Regions from separate parts of the Homo sapiens genome. Here regions 1, 2, 3, 5, 6 and 7 are each linked to region 4. Evidence: fine-mapped expression QTL. A gene starts in region 4. Each other region holds a variant in brackets. All regions are shown on one strand. Distances are from middle to middle.

The links. PIP is the estimated chance that this variant, and not a neighbour inherited with it, causes the effect.
Region 1: its variant is fine-mapped to the expression of RFWD3 in whole blood (INTERVAL, PIP 0.98).
Region 2: its variant is fine-mapped to the expression of RFWD3 in whole blood (TOPMed, PIP above 0.99). The same link has a PIP of 0.9 or more in breast, esophagus muscle, stomach, thyroid and tibial nerve.
Region 3: its variant is fine-mapped to the expression of RFWD3 in whole blood (TOPMed, PIP above 0.99).
Region 5: its variant is fine-mapped to the expression of RFWD3 in whole blood (TOPMed, PIP above 0.99).
Region 6: its variant is fine-mapped to the expression of RFWD3 in whole blood (TOPMed, PIP above 0.99).
Region 7: its variant is fine-mapped to the expression of RFWD3 in whole blood (INTERVAL, PIP above 0.99).

Annotation. Positions count from the first base shown.
Region 1 is chr16:74,509,962-74,514,029 of GRCh38, reverse strand. The region is part of intron 2 of GLG1 (golgi glycoprotein 1); the gene reads left to right. Among named protein-coding and RNA genes, the nearest start is that of CLEC18B, 91 kb to the right of the region's middle. The variant A/G (reference allele first, on the strand shown) is at 1,969.
Region 2 is chr16:74,515,205-74,519,272 of GRCh38, reverse strand. All of the region lies in intron 2 of GLG1 (golgi glycoprotein 1), which reads left to right. Among named protein-coding and RNA genes, the nearest start is that of GLG1, 90 kb to the left of the region's middle. The variant A/G (reference allele first, on the strand shown) is at 1,647.
Region 3 is chr16:74,685,878-74,689,945 of GRCh38, reverse strand. All of the region lies in intron 4 of MLKL (mixed lineage kinase domain like pseudokinase), which reads left to right. Among named protein-coding and RNA genes, the nearest start is that of MLKL, 13 kb to the left of the region's middle. The variant G/C (reference allele first, on the strand shown) is at 2,343.
Region 4 is chr16:74,664,992-74,669,059 of GRCh38, reverse strand. RFWD3 (ring finger and WD repeat domain 3) reads left to right here and starts at 2,183. Exons shown (of 13, transcript NM_018124.4): 1 at 2,183-2,274. It also overlaps the pseudogene TMPOP2. RefSeq lists a silencer at 2,504-2,653.
Region 5 is chr16:74,559,774-74,563,841 of GRCh38, reverse strand. The region is part of intron 1 of GLG1 (golgi glycoprotein 1); the gene reads left to right. Among named protein-coding and RNA genes, the nearest start is that of GLG1, 45 kb to the left of the region's middle. The variant T/C (reference allele first, on the strand shown) is at 2,091.
Region 6 is chr16:74,567,027-74,571,094 of GRCh38, reverse strand. All of the region lies in intron 1 of GLG1 (golgi glycoprotein 1), which reads left to right. Among named protein-coding and RNA genes, the nearest start is that of GLG1, 38 kb to the left of the region's middle. RefSeq lists an enhancer at 2,855-3,354. The variant T/C (reference allele first, on the strand shown) is at 2,237.
Region 7 is chr16:74,526,864-74,530,931 of GRCh38, reverse strand. All of the region lies in intron 2 of GLG1 (golgi glycoprotein 1), which reads left to right. Among named protein-coding and RNA genes, the nearest start is that of GLG1, 78 kb to the left of the region's middle. The variant G/AAG (reference allele first, on the strand shown) is at 1,962.

The DNA.
Region 1 (4,068 bases), 160 kb after region 4:
CTTCCGCTTGATCAAATCGACTATTGAAGCTTACGTATGCTTCACGAAGTTCTCGTACTGTGGTTTTCAGCTCCATCAGGTCATTTAAGCTCTTCTCTACACTGGTTATTCTAGTTAGCCATTTGTCTAACCTTTTTTCAAGGTTTTTAGCTTCCTTTTGATGGGTTAGAACATGCTCGTTAAGCTCAGAGAAGTTTGTTATTACCGACCTTCTGAAGCCTACTTCTGTCAACTTGTCAAATTCGTTCTCCTTCCAGTTTTGTTCCCTTGCTGGTGAGGAGTTGTGTTCCTTTGGAGAAGAGGCATTCTGGTTTTTGGAATTTTCAGCCTTTCTGCTCTGGTTTCTCCCCATCTTCTACCTTTGGTCTTTGATGTTGGTGACCTACGAATGGGGTCTTGGTGTGGATGTCCTTTTTGTTGATGTTGATGTTGATGCTATTCCTTTCTGTTTGTTAGTTTTCCTTCTAAGAGACAGGCCCCTCAGCTGCAGGTCTGTTGGAGTTTGCTGGAAGTCCATTCCAGACCCTGTTTGCCTGGGTATCACCAGCGGAGGCTGCAGAACAGCAAATATTGCTGCCTGATTCTTCCTCTGGAAGCTTCGTCCCAGAGGGGCACCTGCCTGTATGAGATATCTGTTGGCCCCTACTGGGAGGTGTCTCCCAGTAGGCTGACTATATTTTCAAGGAGCTTGACTGAAGGAAATTTTTCCCTTCATCCCCTAGCCCACACCCTAATCCTGTAATTACTTTATTCTAAGTATCTCAAGTATATCCCATCTTTTTTCATTCAAATAAGTTCTTGCCTCTTGGTCTACTAACCTCCCTAAATCCTGCCCTTCTCCAGTGTAATCAGATGTGATCTTTTGAGTTCTTTGGTCAAAATTATCCATTAACCTTCCATTTCCTTTAAGATAAAATTCAAAACCTTTAATATGAACTGCGGTATTCAATGTGATCTGACCCCTGCGCCCCATCTCATCTTTCATACCTTCAACTCCAGCTATTCTGAACTCTGTTTCCATAGGTTATCATTTATTCTTTGTGTCCTTTCTACTTTTGTACACTTAGAAGCCCAATCTCCGTCAGTTCATCTGACTAAATTGCTTCTTATCCCTGAGGATCAAGCCCAGGATGACTGGACTGCTACCAAGACTCCCTGTCCCTCCTCTTACCACTCACCAAAATGTGTTCTTCCTTTGTGTTCTGTAAAATCTCCTGCATGCTTGTTATCACATTTATCACACTATATTTTTATTGTTTATTCCCTTTCCAACCTGACTCTTCCTTCTTTTGTCCTCCTGTGGTTGAGCTTCTTGACTTGCTGAGACAATGGTCTTTTTTTTTTTTTCCTTCCTTCACCTTTCTCATCCCCATTACCTAGAAGGATGTCCAGATTATAGTAGTTACTCATTACACGTTTGGGATGGATGAACAGATAGATTCATGGATGGATGTCTTAAGATTTGAGGCCAGGCGCGATGACTCACGTCTGTAATTCCAGCACTTTGGGAGGCTGGAAGCCAGCAGATCACGAGGTCAGGAGATCGAGACCATCCTGGCCAACATGGTGAAACCCCATCTCTACTAAAAATTCAAAAATGTAGCTGGATGTGGTGGCGCACACCTGTAATCCCAGCTAGTACGGAGGCTGAGGCAGGAGAATTGCTTGAACCCGGGGGGCGGAGGTTGCAGTGAGCCGAGATCACACTTGCATCACTGTACTTCTAGCCTGGGCAAAAATTTTTTTTTTTTTTTTTAATATGGATTCTCGCTCTGTCACCCAGGCGGAGGCTTCAGTGAGTCGAGATCGCGCCACTGCACTTCAGCCTGGGTGACAGAGCAAGACTCCGTCTGAGAAAAAAAAAAAAAAGAAATAAAAGACCAGAAAGTAGATTAATGGTTGCCAGAAGATGAGGGTAGAGAGGATAAAGTGTGACAGAATGGGTGTGGGCTTCTGTTTGGGGTGATA[A/G]TGTTCTATAATTAGGCAATGGTGGTTGTTGCCCATCCTTGTGAATAAAGTAAAAAACCACTGAATTGTACACTTTAGAGAGGTAAATTTTATGGTATATGAATTATATATCAATTTGAAATGAACAAAAAAAAGATGAGATACAGTAAAATGTTTAGCATTTGACAATACTGTCATGGTTCTTAGGGAAGAGACTTGTTCATAAGGAAATTTATGCCTGTCAGAACAAGTAAGTTTTCAAATTAAAAGGTGAAGACATTCAAAAAATCTAAATGGTCATCTAAACGTCTGTTGGCGGAAAATCTATTTCTAGCTCAATTGTAGGACATCTGACTTTGCATTCGATAAAATAGTAAGGAAATATTCTGCTTATAGTTTTAATTTTTCTGGCTTTTGTTACTGTTTGTCCTAAATTTTTGTGATACCAGAAAGCTTTTCTTTTCTTTCTTTCTTTCTTTCTTTTTTTTTTTTTTTTTAAAAAAAAAAGGTTCAAGTTATTCTCCTGCCTCAGCCTCCAGAGTAGCTGGGATTACAGGCATGCACCACCACGCCTGGCTAATTTTTATATTTTTAGTAGAGACCGGGTTTCCCCATGTTAGCCAGACCAGTCTTGAACTCCTGACCTCAGGTTATCCACCTACCTTGGCCTCCCAAAGTGCTGGCATTACAGGCATGAGCCACCATGCCCAGCCTAAAAACTCAGTTATTGATGGTAGCCGAGAGATGAGAGCTTTTACTCATATTTTTGTTTTTGAGGAGGGAGGAGAAGAAATCCTACCCATCCTTTGTGTTTTCTTCAGATCTTCCTCAGCACTCATACAGAATTAACTGCATGCTTCCATGTCATTTCTAATGTACTTTTTATATGCCTCTGTCCTTCTAAAAAGCAGATCTGGTCGTGTCACCCCCTACTTTCTCTTCTGCGATTCCCCGTTATTCTTGGGTTAAAGTTCAGTCATGGCTTACAAAGGCTTTCTGATCTGGCCTGGCTTGAGGCTCCTCGGTCAGTCCTCCATTGGACTTCTGGTTCCCTCCACCCCTTGCTTCCATGGATGCGGTGTCATCTGCCTAAAAAAGTCTTCTCCCTACCCTTGAATCTGGCTAACTGCTTCTAGCCTTTCAGGTTTCATCTTAGCATTTTCTATGGTAAATCTTCCCTGACCAAACTCCCCATCCCTCCCCAGTTTGGAATATTCCTCCCCTATACTGCTGTGGTACCCAGTGATGCCATTAGCCAATTACTTGATCATACTCCCTGCCATTGACTGTAGCTGCCACTGGACAGTCTTTGTCCTTCTCCTTATGTTTTATCCACCAGTTCCTAACACTGTGTCTGGAACACAGTATGTACTCAGTAAACATTTGCTTGTTTCTTCTAATAGCCTATCTGTGAAACGCATTGCCAAGCAGATATTTAACTGAATCAGTGATTGATGACTGTATTTTTTTGTCTAGGAGTATATAGTAGCCAGAGAGGAATGTACCCCCCTCCAAAAATGAATATATACATACATCTTCATGTTCTACATCATCCCAAGTCTCTGCTCTATCTCACCAACTGAACAATTTAAGGCTCATTTTTGCTTAGTTTCAGAAATTGGATCACTTATCAAAATATTTTTATGGAAGCTTCAAAAATAAAGTAATATTTAGTCATTATCTGCAAGAATAGGCTTTAGATATTTTCTAGTGTAACATGTGTTAAAACAGTTGTATAAAGTGGACCTTATGGGCTGGGTGCAGTGGCTCACTCTTGTAATGCCAGCACTTTGGGAAGCCAAGGTGGGTGGATCACCTGAGGGCAGGAGTTCAAGACCAGCCTGACCAACATGGAGAAACCCCATCTCTACTAAAAATACAAAATTAGCCAGGCATGGTGGCACATGCCTGTAATCCCAGCTACTCGGGAGGCCGAGGCAGGAGAATTGCTTGAACCTGGGAGGCAGAGGTTGTGGTGAGCCGAGATCGCGCCATTGCACTGCAGCCTGGGCAATAAGAGGGAAACTCTGTCTCAAAAAAAAAAAAAAAAAGTAGACCTTATAGTGTATGTGTCAAGTGTTTTAAGGGAATCAAGAGGCTGGGCATGCTGGCTCGCACTTG
Region 2 (4,068 bases), 150 kb after region 4:
CACGTATGAGTGAGAACATGTGGTGCTTGGTTTTCTGATCTTGTGATAGTTTGCTGAGAATGATGGTTTCCAGCTTCATCCATGTCCCTGCAAAAGACATGAACTCATCCTTTTTTATGGCTGCATAGTATTCCACAGTGTATATGTGCCACATTTTCTTAATCCAGTCTATCATTGATGGACATTTGGGTTGGTTCCAAGTCTTTGCTATTGTGAATAGTGCCACAATAAATATACATGTGCATGTGTCTTTATCATATAATGATTTATAATCCTTTAGGTATATGCCTAGTGATGGGATTGCTGGGTCAAATGGTATTTCTAGTTCTAGATCCTTGAGGAATCATCACAGTGTCTTCCACAATGGTTGAACTAATTTACACTCCCACCAACAGTGTAAAAGCATTGCTATTTTTCCACAACCTCTTTAGCATCTGTTGTTTCTTGACTTAATGGATATTAGCCCTTTGTCACATGGATAGATTGCAAAAATGTTCTCCCATTCTGTAGGTTGCCTGTTCACTCTGATGATAGTTTCTTTTGCTGTGCAGAAGCTCTTTAGTTGAATTAGATCCCATATGTCAATTTTGGTTTTTGTTGCCATTGCTTTTGGTGCCATTGCTTTGCCCATGCCTATGTCCTGAATGGTATTAATACAGCCCAGGTTTTCTTCTAGGATTTTTATCATCCTAGGTCTTACGTTTAAGCCTTTGATCCATCTTGAGTTTATTTTTGTATAAGGTGTAAGGAACGGGTCCAGTTTCAGTTTTCTGCATATGGCTAGCCAGTTTTCCCAACACCATTTATTAAATAGGGAATCTTTTCCCCATTGTTTACGTGTGTCAGGTTTGTCAAAGATCAGATGGTGGTAGACATCTGGTGATATTTTTGAGGACTCCATTCTGTTCCATTGGCCTGTATATCTGTTTTGGTACCAGTACCACGCTGTTTTGGTTACTTTAGCCTTGTAGTATAGTTCGAAGTCGGGTAGCATGATGCCTCCAACTTTGTGCTTCTTGCCCAAGATTTTCTTGGCTATGCTAGCTCTTTTTTGGCTCCATATGAAGTTTAAAGTCGTTTTTACCAATTCTGTGAAGAAAGTCAGTGGCAGCTTGATGAGGATAGCATTGACTCTATAAATTACTTTGGGTAGTAAGGCCATTTTCACGATATTGATTCTTCTATCCACGAGCATGGAATGTTTTTGCATTTGTTTGTGTCCTCTCTTATTTCCTTGAGCAGTGGTTTGTAGTTCTCCTTGAAGAGGTCCTTCACAGCCATTGTGAGTTGGATTCCTAGGTATTTTATTATTTTTGAAGCAATTGTGAATGGGAGTTCACTCATGATTGGGCTCTCTGTTTGTCTGTTATTGATTTATAGGAATGCTTGTGATTTTTACACACTGATTTTGTATCCTGAGACTTTGCTGAAGTTGCTTATCAGCTTAAGGAGATTTTGGGCTGAGATGACGGGCTTTTCTAAATATACAGTCATGTCATCTACAAAGAGGGACAATTTGACTTCTTCTCTTCCTATTTGAATACCCTTTATTGCTTTCTCTTGCCTGATTGCCCTGGCCTGAACTTCCAATACTATGTTGAATAGGAGTGGTGAGAGAGGGCATCCTTGTCTTTTGCTGGTTTTCA[A/G]AGGGAATGCTTCTAGTTTTTGCCCATTCAGTATGATATTGGCTGTGGGTTTGTCATAAATAGCTCTTAGTATGTTGCGATATGTTCCATCGATACCGAGTTTATTGAGAGTTTTTAGTTTGCAAGGCTGTTGAAGTTTGTCAAAGGCCTTTTCTGCATCTATTGTGATAATCATGTGGTTTTTATTACTGATTCTGTTTATGTGATGGATTACGTTTATTGATTTGCATATGTTGAACCAGCCTTGCATCCCAGGGATGAAGCCAACTTGATGGTGGTGGATAAGCTTTTTGATGTGCTGCTGGATTTGGTTTGCCAGTATTTTATTGAGGATTTTCAGCTAGATGTTGATCAGGGATATTGGTCTAAAATTCCCTTTTTTTGTTGTGTGCCAAGCTTTGGTATCAGGATGATGCTGACCTCATAAAATGAGTTAGGGAGGATTCTCTCTTTTTCTATTGATTGGAATAGTTTCAGAAGGAATGGTACCAGCTCCTCTTTGTACCTCTGGTAGAATTCGGCCGTGAGTCCACCTGGTCCTGGACTTTTTTTGGTTGATAGGCTATTAATTATTGCCTCAATTTCAGAACCTGTTATTAGTCTATTCAGAGATTCAACTTCTTCCTGGTTTAGTCTTGGGAGGGTGTATGTGTCCAGGAATTTATCCATTTCTTCTAGATTTTCTAGTTTATTTGCATAGAGGTGTTTATAGTATTTTCTGATGGTAGTTTGTATTTCTGTGGGATCGGTGGTGATAGCCCCTTTATTATTTTTTATTGTGTCTATTTGATTCTTGTCTCTTCTTTATTAGTCTTGCTAGCAGTCTATCTATTTTGTTGATCTTTTCAAAAAAACAGCTCCTGGATTCATTGGTTTATTTTGAAGGGTTTTTTGTGTCTCTGTCTCCTTCAGTTCTGCTCCGATCTTAGTTACTTCTTGTCTTTTGCTAGCTTTTGAAATTGTTTGCTCTTGCTTCTCTAGTTCTTTTAATTATGATGTTAGGGTGTCAATTTTAGATCTTTCCTGCTTTCTCTTGTGGGCATTTAGTGCTGTAAATTTCCCTCTACACACTGCTTTGAATGTGTCCCAGAGATTCTGGTGTGTTGTGTCTTTGTTCTCATTGGTTTCAAAGAACATCCTTATTTCTGCCTTCATTTCGTTATGTACCCAGTAGTCATTCAGGAGCAGGTTGTTCAGTTTCCATGTAGTTGAGCAAGTTTGAGTGAGTTTCTTAATCCTGAGTTCTAGTTTGATTGCACTGTGGTCTGAGAGACAGTTTGTTACAATTTCTGTTCTTTTACATTTGCTGAGGAGTGCTTTACTTCCAACTATGTGGTCAGTTTTGGAATAGGTGTGGTGTGGTGCTGAAAAGAATGTATATTCTGTTGATCTGGGGTGGAGAGTTCTGTAGATGTCTATTAGGTCTGCTTGGTGCAGAGCTGAGTTCAATTCCTGGATATCCTTCTTAACTTTCTGTCTCGTTGATCTGTCTAATGTTGACAGTGTGGTGTTAAAGTCTCCCATTATTATTGTGTGAGAGTCTAAGTCTCTTTGTAGGTCTCTAAGAACTTGCTTTATGAATCTGGGTGCTCCTGTATTGGGTGCATATATGTTTAGGATAGTTAGCTCTTCTTGTTGAATTGATCCCTTTACCGTTATGTAATGGCTTTCTTTGTCTCTTTTGATCTTTGTTGGTTTAGGTTTAGAGTCTGTTTTATCAGAGACTAGGATTGCAACCCCTGCCTTTTTTTGTTTTCCATTTGCTTGGTAGATCTTCCTCCATCCCTTTATTTTGAGACTATGTGTGTCTCTGCACGTGAGAGGGGTTTCCTGAATACAGCACACTGATGGGTCTTGACTCTTTATCCAGTTTGCCAATCTGTGTCTTTTAATTGGAGCATTTAGCCCCTTTACATTTTTTAAAATTATACTTTAAGTTTTAGGGTACATGTACACAACGTGTAGGTTAGTTACATATGTATACATGTGCCATGTTGGTGTGCTGCACCCATTAACTTGTCATTTAACATTAGGTATATCTCCTAATGCTATCCCTGCCTTCATTTCGTTATTTACCCAGTAGTCATTCAGGAGCAGGTTGTTCAGTTTCCATGTAGTTGTGCGGTTTTGAGTGAGATATTTAATCCTGAGTTCTACTTTGATTGCACTGTGGTCTGAGAGACAGTTTGTTGTGATTTCTCCTCTTTTACATTTGTTGAGGAGTGTTCTACTTCCAATTATGTGATAAATTTTAGAATAAGTGCAATGTGGTGCTGAGAAGAATGTATATTCTGTTGATTTGGGGTGGAGAGTTCTGTAGATGTCTATTAGGTCTGCCCGCTCCAGAGCTGAGTTCAAGTCCTGGATATCCTTGTTAATTTTCTGTCTCGTTGATATGTCTATTATTGATGGTGGGGTGTTA
Region 3 (4,068 bases), 21 kb before region 4:
TTTTCCTCTCTTAACTTTCCAGTTTTATTTTTTATATTTAGGTTTTAATCCTACTAGAATCCACCTTTGTATGTGACGTTATGTAGGGTCAACTTTTATTTTTAGCCACATAGTAAGTCAGTTTTCTCTATACCATCTATTAAGTCGTCTGTCTTTTCCCTGTTGATTTGTGGTACCATATTTATTGTATATTAAGTTTTTATATAGACATAGATCTGACTCTGATCTGTCTAATCTTTCCCACTGATCAATTTGTCTGTTTTTGTACCAGTAACACACTGTTACTGTTTTTTTCATATGACTTTGCAGTAAATTTCGATATCTGGTAAAGAACTTCCTCCTCTTGATTCTTCTTTTTCAGGTTGACTTAGCTGAATAAATATCAAAGAAAGTTTTATCACACTCCTCAAAATACACATCAAGATTTTCATTGAGACTGTATTTTTAACAGTTTTATTGAGATATATTTTACATACCGTAAGATTTACCTATTTAAAATGTACAATTTAATGGCTTTAAATATATTTACAGGCCAGGTGCAGTGGCTCACGCCTGTAATCCCAGCACTTTGGGAGGCCAAGGAGGGCAGATCACCTGAGGTCAGGAGTTCAAGACCAGCCTGGCCAACATGGTGAAACCCCGTCTCTACTAAAAAATACAAAAATTAGCTGGGCATGGTGGCATGAGCCTATAATCCCAGCTACTTGGGAGGCTGAGGCAGGAGAATCACTTGAACCTTGGAGGCCAAGGTTGCAGTGAGCTGAGATCGTGCCACTGCACTCCAGCCTGGGTAACAGAGCAAGACTCCAACAAAAAAAAAAAAGAAAAAAAAAAGAAAAAAGGAAGGAAGGAAGGAGAAACCCTATACCCACTAGCAGTCATTCCTCTTTCACCCCTATCACCACCATCCTGAGCCCAGGCAACAGTCCTACCTTCTGTCTCTATAGATTTGCCTTTTCTGAATCTTCAATGTAAATGGAATAATACAATATGTGGCCTGTTGAGTCTGGCTTCTTTCACTTAGCATGATATTTTCAAGGTTCATCTATATTATAGCAAGTATCATTTCTTCATTCCTTTTTATGGCTGAATGATAGTCTGTTGTATGGATATCCTACTTATCCATTAATCAATTGAAGGACCTTGTGTTTTTTCCACTTTTTGATTATTATGAATAATGTTTCTGTGTACATTCATGTACAGGTTTTGGGGGTTTTTTGTTTTGTTCTGTTTGAGATGGAGTCTTGCTCTGTCACCCAGGCTGGAGTGTAGTGGTGTGATATCAGTCACTGCAACCTCCATCTCCTAGGTTCAAGCAATTCTCATGCCTCAGCCTCCCGAGTAGCTGGAACTACAGGCATGCACCACCAGGCCCAGTTAATTTTTGTATTTTTAGTGGTGACAGGGTTTCACCATGTTGGCCAGGCTGGTCTGAAACTCCTAACCTCAAGCAATCCACCCACCTTGGCCTCCCAAACTGCTGGGATTACAGGCTTGAGCCACTGCACCTGGCCCTCCTGTGTTTTCTTCTAAGAGTTTATAGTTTTTGGCTCTTATATTTAGGTTTCCGAAGTTAGAGTTAATTTTGGTGTATTGTATAAGGTAGTCATTCAACTTCATTTTTCTGCATGTTGATATTCACATGTCCCAGAGCCATTTGTTTAAAAGACTGTGCTGGCCTGGCACTGCAGCTCACATCTGTAATCCTAGCACTTTGGGAGGCCGAGGCAGGTGGATCACTTGAGGTCAGGAGTTTGAGACCAGCCTAGCCAACATGGCGAAACCCCATCTCCACTAAAAATACAAAAATTAGCCGGGCGTTGGCTGGGCGCAGTGGCTCACGACTGTAATCCTAGCACTTTGGGAGGCCAGGGCGGGCAGATCACCAGGTCAGGAGATCAAGACCATCCTGGCTAATATGGTGAAACCCGTCTCTACTAAAAATACAAAAAATTAGCCAGGTGTGGTGGCGGGCACCTGTAGTCCCAGCTACTCAGGAGGCTGAGGCAGGAGAATGGTGTGAACCTGAGAGGCAGAGCTTGCAGTGACCTGAGATCACGCCACTGCACTCCAGCCTGCTTGACAGAGCAAGACTCCATCGCAAAAAAAAATAGCCAGGCGTGGTGGCAGGCACCTGTAGTCCCAGCTACTTGGGAGGCTGAGGCAGTAGAATCTCTTGAACCCAGAAGGCAGGTATTGCAGTGAGCAGAAATTGCATCGCTGCACTCCAGCCTGGGTGACAGAGCAAGTTCCAAAAAAAAAAACTGTGAAAAATCAACTGGCTTTATATGTATGAGTTTATTTCCGGACCCCCAATTCTATTCCATTGATCTGTTTGTCTA[G/C]TCTTATGATAGCACTATACTGTCTTCATTACTGTAACCTTGTGATAAGTTTTGAAATTGAGAAGTATAAGTCTTCCAGCTTTGTTCTTCTTTTGCAAGACTGTCTTGGCTATCCTGAATTCCTTTCATTTCCACACAAATTTTAGGAATATCTTGTCAATTTCAGTTTTTGTTTTTGCTTTTTTTTTTTAAGCCAACTACAAATCGGGTAAGGATTGCATTGAACCTGTAGGTCAATTTGGAAAATGTTACCATCTTAATGGTATAAAGTCTTCCTATTCAAGAACATGGGACGTGTTTCCATTTATTTAGATCTTTTAAAATTTCTTGCTGGGTGCAGTGAGTTATGCCTATAATCCCAGCACTTTGGGAGGCTGAGGCAGGAGGATCACCTGAGGTCAGGAGTTCGAGACTAGTCTGGCCAACATGGTGAAACCCCGCCTCTACTATAAATACAAAAATTAGCCGGGCATGGTAGCAAGCGCCTGTAATCCCAGCTATTCGGGAGGCTGAGGCAGGAGAATTGCTTGAACCCAGGAGGCAGAGGTTGCAGTGAGCCGAGATCATGCCATTGCACTCAGCCTGGGCGACAAAAGTGAGGCTCCATCTCAAAAAACAAACAAACAAAACAAAACAAAATTCTTTCAACAATTTAGGTACAAAATTTTCAGGGTGAGACTTGCACTTCTTTTGTAAATTTATTCCTAAGTATTTTATTCTCTTTATGCTATTGGAAATGAAAATTTTTAATTTAATCTTTTGATTGTTAATTGCTAGCAGATAGAAATACAATTGATTTTTATAGGCTCTGAACCTGCCCTGATTCTCTGACAGACCTTGGACAAGCCTCCTTTGCCCTTTGAGTCTAAGACTCAGAGTGAATGAACAGATTGGATTGAGTTGGTGGTTCCAGTGATCCTCTTTAATAATTTACCTGCCTACATTTTTTAAGGCCCACGTTTTGGAAGGAATTTTGGTTATAAGATTTCACTTAATAAATATCTTTTTTTGTGTGTGTGTGGAGACGTAGTCTCGTTCTGTCACCCAGGCTGGAGTGCAATGGTGTGATCTCGGCTCACTGCAAGCTCCACCTCCTGGGTTCACGCCGTTCTCCTGCCTCAGCCTCCCAAGTAGCTGGGGCTACAGGCGCCCGCCACCACACCCAGCTAATTTTTTTGTATTTTTAGTAGAGACGGGGTTTCACCATGTTCGGCAGGATTGTCTCGAACTCCTGACCTTGTGATCCACCTGCCTCGGCCTCCCAAAGTGCTGGGATTACAGGCATGAGCCACCACGCCCGGCCTAGTATCATTATTTTTATTCATCAAAGACACACACCACGGGCTGGGCACGGTGACTCACACCTGAAATCCCAGCACTTTGGGAGGCGTAGGCAGGCAAATCACTTGAGGCCAGGAGTTTGACACCAGCCTGGCCAACATGGTGAAATCATGTCTCTGCAAAAAAAATACAAAAATTAGCCAAGCATGGTGGCACGCACCTGTAGTTCCAGCTACTCAGGTGGCTGAGGCATGAGAATTGCTTCAACCTGGGAGGTGGAGGCTGCAGTGAGCCAAGATCGCACCACTGCACTCCAGCCTGGGTGACAAAGCAAGACCCTGTCTCCAAAAAAAAAAAAAAGACACACACCACAATCTGTCAGAGTATATGCTAAACAACAGGTTACAGCCTAAAAACAGTAACAAATACTTGACTTTTTAGTTTG
Region 4 (4,068 bases):
CTGAGGCAGGAGAATCACTTGAACCCAGGAGGTGGAGGTTGCAGTGAGCCGAAATCATGCCATTGCACTCCAGCCTGGGCAACAGAGCGAGACCCTGTCTAAAAAAAAAAAAGTTCTAGAGCTAAAAAAGATTATTCATATGGCACAAAGTGATCTCCTACTAGTCCAAAGTTCAAAAACATTTTAATAAAGTCCATTCATATATCTTTTGTTTGCTTTCCAATGGAATACTACGTTTATTGAGGCAAAATCACATTATTTTTAGTTCTTGGAGTCAAAAAGCGTACACGAATGTTCTTCAACACAGTTACTAAAAATACAAGACCAAGTTGAATGTGCCAAAGAGATACCATTCAGTTGGGTTTTCTAGAGTCATCAGGAAGAATATTAGAGAAGGGATTTACATGGTTGGTTTCCATAGCTTGATAGACCAAACACACACAAAAAAACTGCCACAACAACAAACAGCAAAATTTTTATCCATACAGGAATGGAGCGTCCCTTTTTTTTGTATTTTCTCACTTGACGTCTGCCAAGGGAACATACTTAGGAACATATGTAGATGAAAACGACTCCTCCATCCTCAAATCACTGAGTTCTAATGGCCGGCCTGCAGCTCCTTTGATTGTTCTGCGGCAACTAGCACTAATTCTTGTTGGTGTAGTTGCTTCATAGGGGAACATTTCCTTAAGAATATCCCTTTCTACTCTTCTTTCCTGTGTTTTTTTTCTCCCACTTCAGCTCTTGTCAATGGTTTCTTTGGTGTTCTTCTGGGTATGTCTGAGAATTCAGTGACTGGCAGAATAGGAAATGCATGCTTGAAATTTCCAGTCACCCTATTGACAATTAAGGATTCGTTGTTTGAAGCAATTATAGTTTCAGCTATGGGAGTACTCGCTGAAATTACTGCTCCATCTATACGAAAATATTCTGAAGCGTGCACCCTTTTGCTTGGAGTTCTTCTTGACCCTCTTGTAGATTCCCTAGTTAATAATGCCTGCAGAGGTCCGCCTTTTGAAGATCCACTTGTCCATTCAGTCCCAGTTATTCCAGCTTGAGAATAGCTCTCCTTGTGCTCAACTCTTCTTTGCTTGAGGGTTACTGGAGTCTTTACTCCCCTGTTTAGCGGTTCTCTCTTCTCAAACTTGAGCCCAATTTAGAGTCTTCTTCATTTTCACCATATCTGTCAGAATCATTACTTCCATTCTGCCTTGTATTTTCTGCTGAAGAAGAAATTGTTGCTGAAGGAGACGATCTTGATTCTGTTCCTTGCTCCCTCAGTTTCAAAAGCTATTTCTCATACAGCTTCCTGGTTGTTCCCACAATAGGACCACAATTCACTCCGTATTTCACAAGCTGATCCAAAGGATCTTCATTAGTGAGTTCTGTTACATCTAGATCGTCTTTATCATCTTGTCTGGGTTTATCAGTTTTCTTTGTGGCTTTCCTGCCGGCGGCGGGCTCGGAGCCGAGACGGCTGTGGGCTCGCGCTCCTCGTACGTAGCTGGAGAATTCCGGGGGCCCCTTTCTTTTGGCGCTGGCGGCGAGCGGCGGCCCTAACAAGTGATTTGAGACTGTTCAGTAGCTCAGATCCCTTGCAGCGGTTTGAGATTGAAGAGATTATGTAGGCAAAGTATTTTGCGTGAGCTCTTCAACCCCATGAGAGGATACATATGAACTGGACTGTCCTACGCCTCTTTACAGGCTCCGAAATTCAAAATATTGAAATATTTTGAAATTATTCGATTAGCTGCTATCCTTTGGATACAGATAACTCCTTCACTAAAGCGTTAGGGATAAGCAGCAGGAGTCAGTTTTAATATCATCATCCCCATTCCAAAATGGACCGAGAAATCATATAACTTTCTCCCGCCAGAAAGTTCAAATAAAACGCGCTAAAAAAAAAAAAAAAAACCAAACAAAAAAAAAACAAAAAAACCTCCCATTTTTTCCGGGGCGGGTGCAAGGTGACGGACGTAGATTCCTGCCAATTGTAGGAGGCTTCCTCAAGCGCGGTCCCGCCTCGTCAGGACGAACTACCAGCCAATGAGAGCACCGCTGCTTCAGCTATCGGGGGACCCATTGAAGAAGAAGAGTGGGTATTGGCCACAGCGTAGGGCTTCTGTCCAATAGGAGCATGCCTGCCGGCGGCTCTGGCGGGAGCTTGAGCGGCTCCGGAAGTGGCAGTTGGCGTAGGTGCATTCGGAGTGCGGCCGAGGTAACTACCGAGTCTTCGGCGGGCTCGCGAGCCCGGCCGCGGCCTGCTGGTTTCAGGTGAGGAGGGGTGTTGCTTCTCCTCAGGCCTTGGGCCTCTAGCTTCGGGATAAACCTCCCCACGCCTGATTCCTGGATTGGGATTCAGGAGACACCCCACGAGGTGGGCTGCACGCGGGCTTGGAACCCGGCGGCCTGAGGGGATTCGGGCCCTCGGGGCGGCGCCAGTGGTCGGGGCTAAGGAGCCCGAACCCCCGCGCGTATCTGGGTTGCTGGGCGTGGGGGCTGGGCAGGCGAGAGCTCGGGGCGATCACTGAAGGAGCCGAGTTCGCTGCTGCGGGGCCTGCCCTGGCCGGGGTGGGAGGTCGCCCGGCCCTTCCCCCGAGAGCCTAGCCTCGGGCTCCTCAGCGGCGTTGCCTGCGCCCGCTCTGAGCGCCGATTACTTCATCACTTTAAAGTTGATGGAAGAACTTCATTTTTAATTTCATCACGGAAACTGTGGAGTAAAGACTTGTATTATCCCTGTTTTACAGGAGAACAAGTTGAGCCGAGTTTAGGAAACCCGCCCAAAGTTTCCCCATGTAGTAAAAGAACAGGGATTTAATATCTATGTATCTAATCAATCTATCTATCTATCTATCTATCTATCTATCTATCTATCTAATCTGTCTATCTAATCTATCTATGTCTTTCTTTCCCCATGTAGTAAAAGAACAGGGATTTAATTTCCTTCTTTCCCTCTCTCCCTTCCCCTCCCGTCTCCCTCTCCCTCCTCTTCCCCCTCCGCCTCTCCCTCTCCCTCTCTCTTCCTCCCTTTTTCCTGTTATAAAGAGAAAAAGGTGTTATAAAGAGAAAAGCGGTGGCTCAGGCCTGTAATCCCAGCACTTTGGGAGGCCGAGGCAGTCGGATCACCTGAGGCCAGGAGTTCGAGACCAGCCTGACCAACATGGAGAAACCCCATTTCCCAGCTACTCGGGAGGCTGAGGCAGGAGAATCGCTTGAACCCGGGAGGCCGAGGTTGCAGTGAGCTGAGATCACGCCATTGCACTCCAGCCTGGGCAACAAGAGTGAAACTCCATCTCAAAAAAAGAAAGAAAGAAAGAAAGAAAAGTCTCCCTGTTGCACCCAGGCTGGAAGAGCTCACTGCAGTCTCGAACTCCCGGGCCCCAGGGATCCTCCCACCTCGGCTTCCCGCAATAGCTGGGACCACAGGTGCGCGCCACCACGCCCGGCTCATTGTTTTATTTTTCTTTTTTCTTTCTTTTTTTGAGATAGAGTCTCGCTTTGTTGCCCCTGCTGGAGTGCAGTGGTGCGATCTCGGCTCACTGCAACCTCTGCCTCCCGGGTTCAAGCGATTCTCCTGCCTCAGCCTCCCAAGTAGCTGGGATTACAGGCATGCGCCACCACACCCGGGTAGTTTTTGTATTTTTAGTGGAGACGGGGTTTCACCATATTGGCCATTCTGGGACTCCGACCTCAAGTGGTCTGCCCTCGGCTTCCCAAAGTGCTGGGATTACAGGTGTGAGCCACCGCGCCTGACCTGTTCTATTTTTCTTTTTTGGTAGAGATGGGAATTTCACTGTGTTGCCCAAGCTGGTCTGGAACACCAGAGCGTAAGTGATCCATCCGCCTGGGCATTTCAGTGTCCAGGGATCACAGGCGTGACCCTCTGCACCGGCCAGAGCAAAGATTTGAACACTTCCCCCGCCCACCTCTTCTCAACCTTTAATTGAGGGGCTTTCGTCCTGCCTGTTGTGGCCATTGATTGAAACCTGAGTAACAAAGATGACAAGTCTGAGGTTGACATTTTAAGCACCGCTCACAGCACACATAAAAAACAGCGTTTGTGTGACA
Region 5 (4,068 bases), 110 kb after region 4:
ATAATTTAAAGAAGTCTGTTTTGTAACCATAGCCTTTGCAGTAGAATCTGCTATGGAGCATATCATGAGGAACAAATTTCTTTTTTTTTTCTTTTTCTTTCTTTTTTTTTTTTTTGAGACAGGGTCTCACTCTGTTGCGCAGGCTGGAGAATAGTGGCGTGATCTCGGCTCCCTGCAACCTCTGCCTCCTGGGTTCAAGCAGTTCTCCCACCTCAGCCTCGCAAATAGCTGGGACTACAGGCACACGCCACCACGCCCCGCTAATTTTTGTGTTTCTGCTAGAGACAGAGTTCCCATTTTGACCAGGCTGGTCTTGAACTCCTGACCTCAAGTGATCTGCCCACCTCAGCCTCCCAAAGTGCTTGGATTACAGGCATGAGCCACTGCGTCCAGCCCATGAGGGACAAATTTCTAGACACTGTATCGTTTACTCCAAACTCTGGAAAAAGTGACCTAACAATGAAGGCCATTCAGAATGATGAAGGCTTCCAAGCACTAGTGTTCTTTTTCACCTCTGATGTAGGTTAAAAGGAGTGGACCAGTGTTCTCTTTCTGACAGAACCATTAAAATTCCTAACCCACATTGGACTGTCATCTTTCATCCATTAAGACATAATGCTGCCTATGGATAAGGTTGGCTGTAAAAGTTTTCACAAATAAAAGTGTGCCCCATTGGTGCACCATAAGACCCCTTTTCTGTTGTTCATAGAGGCATAAACAAGGAAAACATTGAGAGGTAAGAGTCTCATGATGACAGAGAAGTTTTGATCCATGCTTTTGGGAAAGCTGTCCATGTCTAGGGTGCCATCTGCTTCTGGGGGAAAACCTTTTCTAACTGGTTAGCTTTACGTTAAGATTTCCAATGGGTGTACAATTCCAAGTCTGGAGGGGCCCTCCTGCATTGTGATATCAATTGACCCAGTGTTTGAGGCCCCAGAGTTTTGCTTCATTGTGGGTAACAAGGGCAGTGTTTTCCTGACGTCATTTCCAGAAGAACCAACCTCCAGGTTCTAGATTGTGAAGGATTTGAATGTCCTCAGTGGGTGGGTCATGAAAAGCTTCCTTTACTGCCAGCACGGTAGCTCATGCCTGTAATCTCTACACTTTGGGAGGCCGAGGTGGGCGAATCACTGGAGGTCAGGTCTCTGGAACCCAGGAGTTCAAGACCAGCCTGACCAACATGGTGAAACCCCATCTCTACTAAAAATACAAAAATTAGCTGGGTGTGGTGGCGCATGCCTGTAATCCCAGCTGCTTGGGAGGCTGAGGCACAAGAATTGCTTGAACCCGGGAGGTGGAGGTTGCAGAGAGCTGAGATCACACCACTGCTCTCCAGCCTGGGCAACAGAGTGAGACCATCTACAGAAAATAAAAAAAAGAAAAGCTTCCTTTAGCTGGTGAAAATACACTTTGGTATAATGCATTAAAGGCTTGCAGCATTTATTCATATCAGAGTTTGGGAGAGGAAGATACATGAGGTTCTATTATTAGTGGCATAGGCCTTCCAGTGACTATTTCATAATGAGTCAACTTATATTTTCTACTGGAAGCAGATGAGGTTGTCATCAATCTGCAATACCTTTGACCAAGGCAACCAGTCAATTCAGTTAGCTTCACCTAAAGCTGTTGTGTCTGTAATACCTTACTTAACTGTTTACAACTTGTCCAGTGAAACAAGTACCACTATCACTGGAGATTTCTCCAGGAATGCCCCGTGAGGGAAACACATTTTCTGACAACCTTTTAGCTACTGTTATAGCATCAGCCTTCTTGCATGAGAAAGCTTTTACCAGAAAACGTGTTGAAAATGACAGTTGAATGAAATTCCTCTATAAGTGTTCCAATGACCCATCAGGTAGCTGAAGTTTTAATTATCTTCCCAGGTTGTAGGTTTGATAAGCCAAACCTTGGTCATAAACCATTTTTAGCGATTTAGAGCAGTCACCACACCAATGTATATGTTTTCTATTTGGATCATTTTCTGTCTTCCATGATGAGTCATGGAGTGCAGAGCTTTTAATAATGGAAGATTTACGGATTCAGGAAGGACCAGGTGGCTGTGCAGGATCTCTGTGATTCCATGCTTAACA[T/C]TGCATTTATAGCCTGTTAAATACCAATTTTGTATCTCCAATTCAGGTGCATAGCACTGTTCATTAAATGGGTTATCATAGGTAATTTGACTTGGAACATAGAGTTCATTCAAGTTGCATATCTTAACAGTTTTAGTACTGGCTGATTTAGCATGAAAATCTGGCAGAGTATTTTTCTTAGTATTCAGTTAATTTTTGTCCTGCTTGGGTTAGCAGTTTTATAAACCAGTCTCTTTATTAAAGTTCTGGGAATTCTTACCCAGTCCAAATTAGATGAGCCTAAAGTTATCAGAAACTTGTATTCAGTAGTGCTTATTAGGGTCCTTTCCATTACTTTCCATGAACGTTCTTGAAGACATAATGCTCTAGGATTTTACTTGGTTGTAAAGAGCTTAAAGAAAATGCATCCGTATAAAGCAATTAACTGTGGAAACAAAATGATCATGGTTAAAGACATAATTGACAAGAAAATTTGGTTGTGGTCATGAAGGGTGTGAGGGTGCAGGCCTAGGTGCCAATATTGGGGGCAGGGACCTCAGCCTTCTGAGGCTACTCACAGGCATGCTGCCCCCCATGCCCAGCTCTGACACCAGCAGGAGGAAGGTGCTGGCTGCTGCAGGATCCTGGCTTGCTGCCTGTTGGCCCCGATCCTGCCCCATCCCTCCAGCTGGGCACCCCCAGGTGCTGCCATGCAACCAAGCAGGACTGTGCAGGACTGCGCAGGACTGCGTGGTGCCAGACTATATCTCTTCTAAAAATTCATTCAATTTGAAATAACCTTTAAATAACTTTTTTTCTCAGCAAACACATATTTTTATGCCTTTATAGCTTTCCTTACAAAAACATATCTTACTTTCTTTACATATTCTATATACAGAATTGCTTCTCTCTTTCCTTCCTTCTTTCCCTCCCTTCCTCCCTTCTTTTTTTCTTTCGAGATGGGATTGCTGTGTTGCCCAGTCTGGTCTCAATCAAACTCCTGGCTTCCAGAGATCCTCCTGCCTCAGCCTCCAAGTAGCTGGGGTTACAGGCCTAAGCCACCATGCCCAGCTCAGGTTTAATTTTTCTTACAATTAGTTGCTTAAGCTTTGCCTTTTATAAAGAGTTTTTAGGGCTAGGCGCAGTGGCTCATGCCTGTAATCCCAGCACTTTGGTAGGCTGAGGCAGGCAGATCACCTGAGGTCAGTTCAAGGCCATCCTGGCCAACATGCTGAAACCCATCTCTACAAAAATACAAAAATTAGCTAGGCTTGATGGCAGTCAAGTTACTAGTTACTGCGGGGGCAGGGGGGCGGCGGGGGGAGGCTGAGGTGGCAGAATCGCTTGAACCTGGAAGACGGAGGTTGCAGTGAGCTGAGATCGTGCCATTGCACTCCAGCCTGGGCGACAGAGTGAGACTCCGTCTCAAAAAAAAAAAAAAAAAAAGACAAAAACTGAGGTCCCAATTCAAAGCAGTTAGGAGGAAATCCCCCCTTTCTTTGATTCTGGAGTCCTGGGGGAGCTTCAGCCTTTTTGTTCTATTCAGACCTTCAACTGATGGAATGGGACCCACCCACATTGGGAAGGACAGTCTGCTTTGCTAGTCTGCCTGTCCAAGTGCTAATCTCATCCAAAAACAGCACCGTAGACCCACCCAGAACAATGTTTGGCGAAACGCGTGTGGCCCAGTGAAGTTGACACAAAAAATTAACCATCATCCTCATAAAATACCTAGTACAATCTGAATAAAATGTGTACCATTGTTGGTTCTTTAGTTGTGACAGATTGCACTATATAAAGTAAGCTATTAACAATAGGGGAAAATGAGAAGGCATATGGGAACTCTGTGTGCTGTCTTCTCAACTTTTCCATTAAGTCTAAAATTCTCCAGTGGTTTATTTTTTAAAATAATAAATTCAAAATAAAATTATGTTTTAGGCATGTTACATTTTAGGTGACAGTGGACATTCAAAGTGAATACATTAAGAAACTGAAAATA
Region 6 (4,068 bases), 98 kb after region 4:
CAAGCTCCAGTGTACAAGCACTTTTCAGTCCTCTGATGTCACATTTGCTAATGTTTTACTGACCAAAGCAGGTCAGGTAGCCATGCCCAGATTCAAAAGGTTAAAGTGCCAAGTGAGGTGTGGTTAAAAAAAAAAAAAGACCAAAAAAACACAAAGAGTGAAGGAATTATAATCCATCTGTTTTTTGAGGGGCCAGCGGGTGGTAGGCGGACAGGGTCTTATGCTGTCATCCAAGCTGGAATGCAGTGGCATGATTGTAGCTTGCTGTAGCCTCAAACTCCTGGGCTCAACCCATTCTCCCACTTCAGCCTTCCAAGTGGCTGTGTCTGTAGGCGTGTGCCACCACACCTGGCTGATTTTTTATAGAGACAGGGTCCCACTATGTTGACCAAGCTGGTCTCAAACTCCTGATCTCAAGTGATGCTCCTGCCCTGGCGTCCCAAAGTGTTGTGATTACAGATGAGAGCCACTGTGCCTGGCCTGACTCCATCTGTTGATGGCATGAGCAACAATGTCACATTCAAAGGGCTGTGCTTTCAGAAAGGGGGGCAGGTGGGATTTGTGGCCTTGAAAAAATCCATCACAGTATAGAATTTTAGGTTGGAATATATTTTTCTTTCAGTGCATTTTTTTTTATTCCACTGTCTTTTGGCTTTCATTTTTGCTATTGAGCAGTTTATTCCTATAGCTTCTTTTAAGATTTTCTGAGGCTGAGAAATGCTTCACAATTATTATGTGAATTAAAAGATAAATGTAAAGAGACAAATACCTGGTAGTTTGCTGGTACCAGTAGAGAGACAAATAGCTGGTGGTTTTATGATGTTTTTGCACCAAAGTTTATTAGACAGCTGGAGAAATGGTGAAGTCAGGTGTGTGTACAAAAGCACCTAGAAGGAAATAGGTGATGTAGAAGTGAAAATATTCATTGGATTTATTATTCTGATTGATTTTTATTAATATAAAAATGAAAATATTTTGTAATTATGGAGCAAAAACCATTTGTCTTTTCAATAAAATTATGAGCCATCAAAAAATTTCAAAACTATTGTTTTTTTTTTTTCTTTCCTTTTCTTTTTTTTGAGACGGGGTTTGCTGTGTTGCCCAAACTGGTCTCAAACTCCTGGGCTCAAGCGATCCACTGGCCTCAGCCTCCCAAAATGCTGGAATTACAGGTGTGAGCCATTGCGCCCGGCCAAAACCGTTGCTTTTTTTTTTTTTTCTTTTTTTTTTTTTGAGTTGGAGTTTCAATCTGTCGCCCAGGCTAGGGTGCAGTGGCGTGATCTTGGCTCGCTGGAACTCTGTTCCCCAGGTTCAAGTGATTCTCCTGCTTCAGCCTCCCATGTAGCTGGAATTACAGGTGAGCCCCACCATGCCCAGCTAATTTTTTGTATTTTTAGTAGAGATGCGGTTTCACCATGTTGGCCAGGCTGGTCTTGAGCTCCTGACCTCAGGTGATCCACCCATCTCGGCCTCCCAAAGTGCTGGGATTACAAGTGTGAGCCACTGTGCATGGCACTATTGCATTTTGATGATACAAGTGCAAATATGAGAACTAGAAATAATGATAAGCTAGACTCTGTTAGAGATGTATTTGAAACTGGAATCAGTATTTACGAGGTGGATGTGTTCCAGGTTTGTGAATGACAGTTGATAAGCAGCTGGCATTGTTCAGTTCAGGTATATATACCTTCAAACCCAAGGAAACATAGAATAAATACTTGGGTTTACTGTGTTTAAATGTCTATTAAAGTTTCTTTGCCTTTCTGCTGATTATCGTTTATGATGTCTTGTTTCAGAAAGGATTTTTATTTGCTTATGCTAGGGAATTCTGACCACTCCATTCTAAGACCATCTTACATCATTCTCACAGTTCGAGGTTTTCTGAAACACCCATACAGTACAAATCTGTGCTCAGATCTGTGGAAAGGCTGGTTTACTTCTGATTCACCCTTGTCTTAAGGGTGTAGCCTTTTGAGATGCCAGCTTTAAGTGAGGACTATCTCATTAGATTTCCTACCTTGGGCAGGCCTTGGGCTTGGTTTCTGCCCACACGGCCCTTCAGTCATTTTGATGGGTTTAGCAAGTGCCTTCAAGGCAGAAGTGAGCTTTTGAGCTCTCCTGTGTTCTTGGGTATGTACCCCCTTTTCCTTCAGTTCTGGCTTGACAGTAATTTACGGTATTTTTAGCTCTTTATTGCTTTTAAGAAGATTTTTGTTTTCCAACACTTTTAGTTGTT[T/C]ATAGTTAAAGGGTTGTTCTAAATAACCACTTCCAGAAGCAGATAACTGCACTTATTTTTAAGCTTTTCTGTTACTTTGCATGTGCACCTGATTTAAGATACTATTGGTTAAGCACTTTGCAAATAGAAAATATACGTACAGGCCAGGCGCAGTGGCTCATGCCTGTAATCCCAGCACTTTGGGAGGCCGAGGTGGGCGGATCACCTGATATCAGGAGTTCTAGACCAGCCTGGCCAACATGGTGAAACCCCGTCTCTACTAAAAACATAAAAATTAGCCAGGCGTGGTGGTGTGCAACTGTAATCACAGCTACTCAGGAGGCTGAGGCAGGAGAATCGCTTGAACCCGGGAGGCGGAGGTTCCAGTGAGCCGAGATCATGCCATTGCACTCCAGCCTGGGCGAAAGAGCAAGAGTCCGTCTCAAAAAAAAAAAAAAAAAGCAGTAAAATTATTCTGATACTTCTTTCTGCTTTATCAGAGTGAGATTTAAGTAAAAAGTTCATGTTCCTCACTATATCAGTTAGGAGTTATGATTCTTTTATAGTAATAGGAAGTCCTTTCCAAACTAGCTTCAGGTAAAAAGAGAATTTGCCTCATATAACTGTAAAGACAAGGTTTAGCACAGGCTTCAGGCTTAGATAGGTATTGATACTTGGCATCTTAGCAGGACTGACTTCTCTTACCATCTGCTTCTGGGCTGGCTTCTTTCACAGTCTCCACGTTGTGGCAAGGTGGCCAAAGTAGCTTTTATTCCTGTTCCTCCATGTGTCCCAGCATTATTGCAAATGTTGTATTGTTTGTCATTGTCTGAGTCCCTGAACCAGTTAGGAATGTTATGTGCATAGTCTTGGATTATGTGGACTCATTTGCTCTATCTGTGTCAGGAATGAGGCCCGACCTGGAGCACTCAGACTGAGATTGACAGAGTTGGGTGAATCCCCAAAAGAAAGCCAGGAGGCTAGAGAAGCAGACAATGAAAGTGCACCATATGGCCGGGCGCGGTGGCTCACGCCTGTAATCCCAGCACTTTGGGAGGCCGAGGCGGGTGGATCATGAGGTCAGGAGATCGAGACCATCCTGGCTAACAAGGTGAAACCCCGTCTCTACTAAAAATACAAAAAATTAGCCGGGCGCGGTGGCGGGCGCCTGTAGTCCCAGCTACTCGGGAGGCTGAGGCAGGAGAATGGCGTGAACCCGGGAAGCGGAGCTTGCAGTGAGCCGAGATTGCGCCACTGCAGTCCGCAGTCCGACCTGGGCGACAGAGCGAGACTCCGTCTCAAAAAAAAAAAAAAAAAAAAAAAAAGAAAGTGCACCATATATAGTAAGGTTTCAGCACAGGAAGCAGTGATTTTTATCTTTTGGAGTTTTACTTCTGACGTGACCCAAATGAAGAATAGTCCTGTGTCCTAGGAAACCCCAATGTTTTGTATTTGCTTCTATCATTAGAATAAAGAGATACCTGTCAATTTCTCATTTCAAATTCTAAAGCGCTGGCATTACAAATTTCAGTGAAACTATTGTGAGCCAGGCCAGAGCTGAGGGACGTGTTACAACATTGGTAATTGAACTTAACTCTGTTCCTCCTACCAACAAAACAAAAGAAACAGCTAACTCCTCTCTCTGTCTGTCTCTCTCTCTCTCTCTCTGTCTCTCTCTCCCCGCTCCCTACACCCCCCACACACAACACACACACACACAATTACATGTAATCATGTAATTTTATTCAAGATTTTCTCCTATAGAAAATTCAAAAATGCTAGATTTTAGGAGACCCATTAAGCGGCCTGAAAGGTTTTCTTAGATTCTTTTTCTGGGCAAAGACAATTTTCTT
Region 7 (4,068 bases), 140 kb after region 4:
AATGTTCACAGGAAAAGAAAAAGGTGTCCAATAAACAGTAAAAAGTTTATTCTCCCTCAGAATCAAAAGCATAAAAATTCAGCAAAAAATGAGTGCACTGTTGTCATCCATTTGATTAGCAAATATCAAAAATTTGATAAATGGGTTCGCACCTGTACTCCCAACTACTCGGGAGGCTGAGGCTGGAGGACCCCTTGAGCCAGGAGTTCGAGGTAGCAGTGACCTACGATCACAAAACTGCACTGCAGCCTGGGTAACAAAGTGAGCCCCCCATCTCTTAAAAAGAAAAAAAAAAAAAGGATAAATACACAGTATTGATAAGGATGTGTGTATTTAAGCATTCTCTAGCCCATAGATCAAAAAACTACAACACTTAGGCCAAATCCAGTCTACTACCTGTTTTTATACATAAAATTTTATTGAAACAGCCACACCATTTATTTATGTATTGCCAGTGGCTGCTTTTCACACTAGGATGGCAAAGTTGAGTAACTGCAACAGTGACTACAGTTCCCTGAGAACTGTTACTTTCTGGCTCTCTGCAGAAGAAGTTGGCTGAACCCTGTTCAAGCCTATGTATGGGAATAAAAACAAGCTATAAAACAGTCAACCTAAAATGCATATGTTTTGACCCAGCATTTCTACTTCTATGAATTTATGGATAGTTAAAAGAATGGATAGAGATGTGTCTATAAAAGGATATTTGTTGTGGCATTATTTATAAAGCAAAGGATTAGGGGAAAACCTCAAAATCCATCAATAGACTGAATCTGACAGAAGAGAAACCCAGAAAAAAGTTGATGTGTGCCTTGGAACTCTCAAAGAGCCAGCCGGGCGCAGTAGTCCACACCTGTAATCCCAGAATTTTGGAAGGCTGGGTGGATCACCTGAGGTCGGGAGTTTGAGACCAGCCTGGCCAACATAGTGAAACCCCTCTACTAAAAATAAAAAAATTAGCCAGGCGTCGTGGCACACCCCTGTAATCCTGGCTACTCAGGAGTCTGAAACAGGAAAATCGCTTGAACCGGGGAGATAGAAGTTGCAGTGAGATCGTGCCACTGCCCTCCAGTCTGGGTGACAGAGTGAGACTCCGTCACAAAAAAAAAAAAAAAAAAAAAAGAACTCTCAAAGAGCCAAGGAATAGGAAGGATACGATACTGCTGAAAATGGGGGACAAATAGTATCCAAAAAACAGGAGATTTGGTGGAAGGTCTATGTAAGAAGCAGTCAGGACTCTTTAGAGAACAATTATATAACCCAGAAATTCTATAATATAGCCATTCATAATGTCCCGCATGCTATCAGAAATGGCTGGATATGAGAAGAAGCAGGAAGATATCAAGAGATAAAGTAGCCAACAGAGAGAGATCCAGAGAAGAGGTAATTCATATATTGGAATTATTAATAGCAGACAAGGACTTCAAATAACTAATAAAATAGAGGAAAATAAAATATTTTCCTATAAATAAAATAGAGGAAAATAAAATATTTTCCTATAAATAGAGGAAAATTAAAATGGATGAAAATATGAAGTATTTCAACCGAGAATTAGTCTTTATTAAGAAAATCAATTAGACATTTTTGGACTAAATGTAATTTCAGAAATTAAGAACTTATGGGTAGTTTTAAAAGACAGCTTTAGTGGACATAAAAACAGATTCATGGCCAGGTGCGGTGGTTCACGCCTGTAATCCCAGCACCTTGGGAGGTCAAGACAGGTGGATTACTTGAGGTCAGGAGTTCGAGACCAGCCTGTTCAACACGGTAAAAAACCCCATATCTACTAAAAATTACAAAATCAGCTGGGTGTGGTGGCAGGTGCCTGTAATCCCAGCTACTCAAGAGACTGAGGCGGGAGAATTGCTTGAATCTGGGAGGTGGAGGTTGCAGTGAACCACTATCGTACCACTGCACTCCAGCCTGGGCAACAGAGCGAGATTCTGTCTCAAAAAAAAAAAAAA[G/AAG]GCAGACAGAATGGGATAGAAGCAGTATTCGAAGAAATAATGGCCAAGATGTTTTCCAAATCTAATGAGAGGCATTAACCCATAAATTCAACGAACTTAGTGAACCTCAAGAGAAATCCATACTCACCTAACAATTTTTTTTTTTTTTTTTTTTTTTTTGAGACAGAATCTCGCTCTGTCACTGAGGCTGCAGTGCAATGGTGTGATCTCGGCTCACTGAAACTTCCGCCTCTGGGGTTGAAGTGATTCTCCTGCCTCAGCCTCCTGAGTAGCTGGGATTACAGGTGCCCACAACCACGCCCAGCTAACTTTTGTATTTTTAGTAGGGACAGGGTTTCACCATGTTGGTCAGGCTGGTCTCGAACTCCTGACCTCAGGTGATCCACCCGCCTCGACTTGCCAAAGTACTGGGATTATAGGTGTGAGCCACCACACCTAGCCTAGACACATTATTAACAATCTGCCAAAACGAAAAGATAAAAAGAAAACTCAACAAGCAGGCAGAGAAAAAGAGACATTCTCTTGAGGGAAGGAAAATGACAGCTGGCTTCTCAACAAAGCAAGCAGTAGAAACTAGAGCAAATGAAACAATAAATGTAAAATGCTGAGAGAAAATGCCAACATGGAATTCTATATCCAGCAAAAAATACCCCTTTAAAAAATGAAAATAGGCCAGGCACCGTGGCTCACCCCTGTAATCCCAGCATTTTGGGAGGTAGAGGCAGGCAGATCGCTTGAGGCTAGGAGTTGAAGACCAGCCTGGCCAACATGGTGAAATCCTGTCTCTATTAAAAATACAAAAATGGCCAGGTTTTGTGGCTCACGCCTGTAAACCCAGCAGGCAGATCACTAGGTCAGGAGATCGAGACCATCCTGGCTAACACGGTGAAACCCCATCTCTACTAAAAATACAAAAAAGCTAGCCAGGTGTGGTGGTGGGCATCTGTAGTCCCAGCTGCTCGGGAGGCTGAGGCAGGAGAATGGTGTGACCCTGGGAGGTGGAGCTGGCAGTGAGCCGAGACTGCACCACTGCACTTCAGCCTGGGTGACAGAACGAGACTCCATCTCAAAAAAAAAAAAAAAAAGAATTAACCACCGCACCTGTAATCCCATCTACTTGGGAGGCTGAGGCATAAGAATCACTTGAACTGGGGAGGAAGAGGTCGCAGTGAGCTGAGATCCCGCCACGGCACTCACCCCTGGCCGACAGAGCAAGACTCTATCTCAAAAAAAATAAAATAGGTGTTATCAGACAAGCGAAAGCTGAGAATATTCATCTCCCACATTTGCACACTGTGAGAAATCCTAAATTCTTGAAGGTAAAAGGATCACAAATTGAAGCAGAGAAGTAGGAGCACTAGAAGAGAAAAATAATTGATACGTATGACTATTATTCTTTCATGCTTTAAGATAACTGACTTGGCCAGGCGTGGTGGCTCACGCCTGTAATCCCAGCACTTTGGGAGGCTGAGGTGGGTGGATCACCTCAGGTCAGGAGTTCGAGACCAGCCTGGCCAACATGGTGAAACCCCATCTCCACTAAAAATATAAAAATTAGTTGGGTGTGGTGGTGCACACCAGTAATCCCAGCTACTCAGGAGGCCAAGGCGTGAGAATCACTTGAATCTGGGAGGTAGAGGTTGCAGTGAGCCGAGATAGCGCCATTGCACTCCATCCTGGGCAAAAAGAGCAAAACTCCATCTCAAAAAAAAAAAAAAAAAAAAAGAACTGACTTAAGCCAAAACAATAACAGTATACTTTCAGATTATAACATGTAGAATAAAATATATGACAACAGTAGCACAAAGGGTGGGTAGGAATAAAAATATAATTTTACTTTGGAATATTCTTATATTGTGTATGAGGTAGCATAATATCAATTCAATTTCGACTGTGACCAAGTTAAGGATGTATAATCAGGATACAGATTTGTTTCACATAATGATTGTTCAGTTAATGGTATTTAGCCATCATGACCCTTACAGGTTGATAGCACTTTACCCAAAACACAGATTATGCCCTGAGACATTATTGTTCTAAGCAAATTTGCGTGTAGCGACTTACTCAACACTAGTCAGACTATCACATGGAACAAATTTGAATTCTA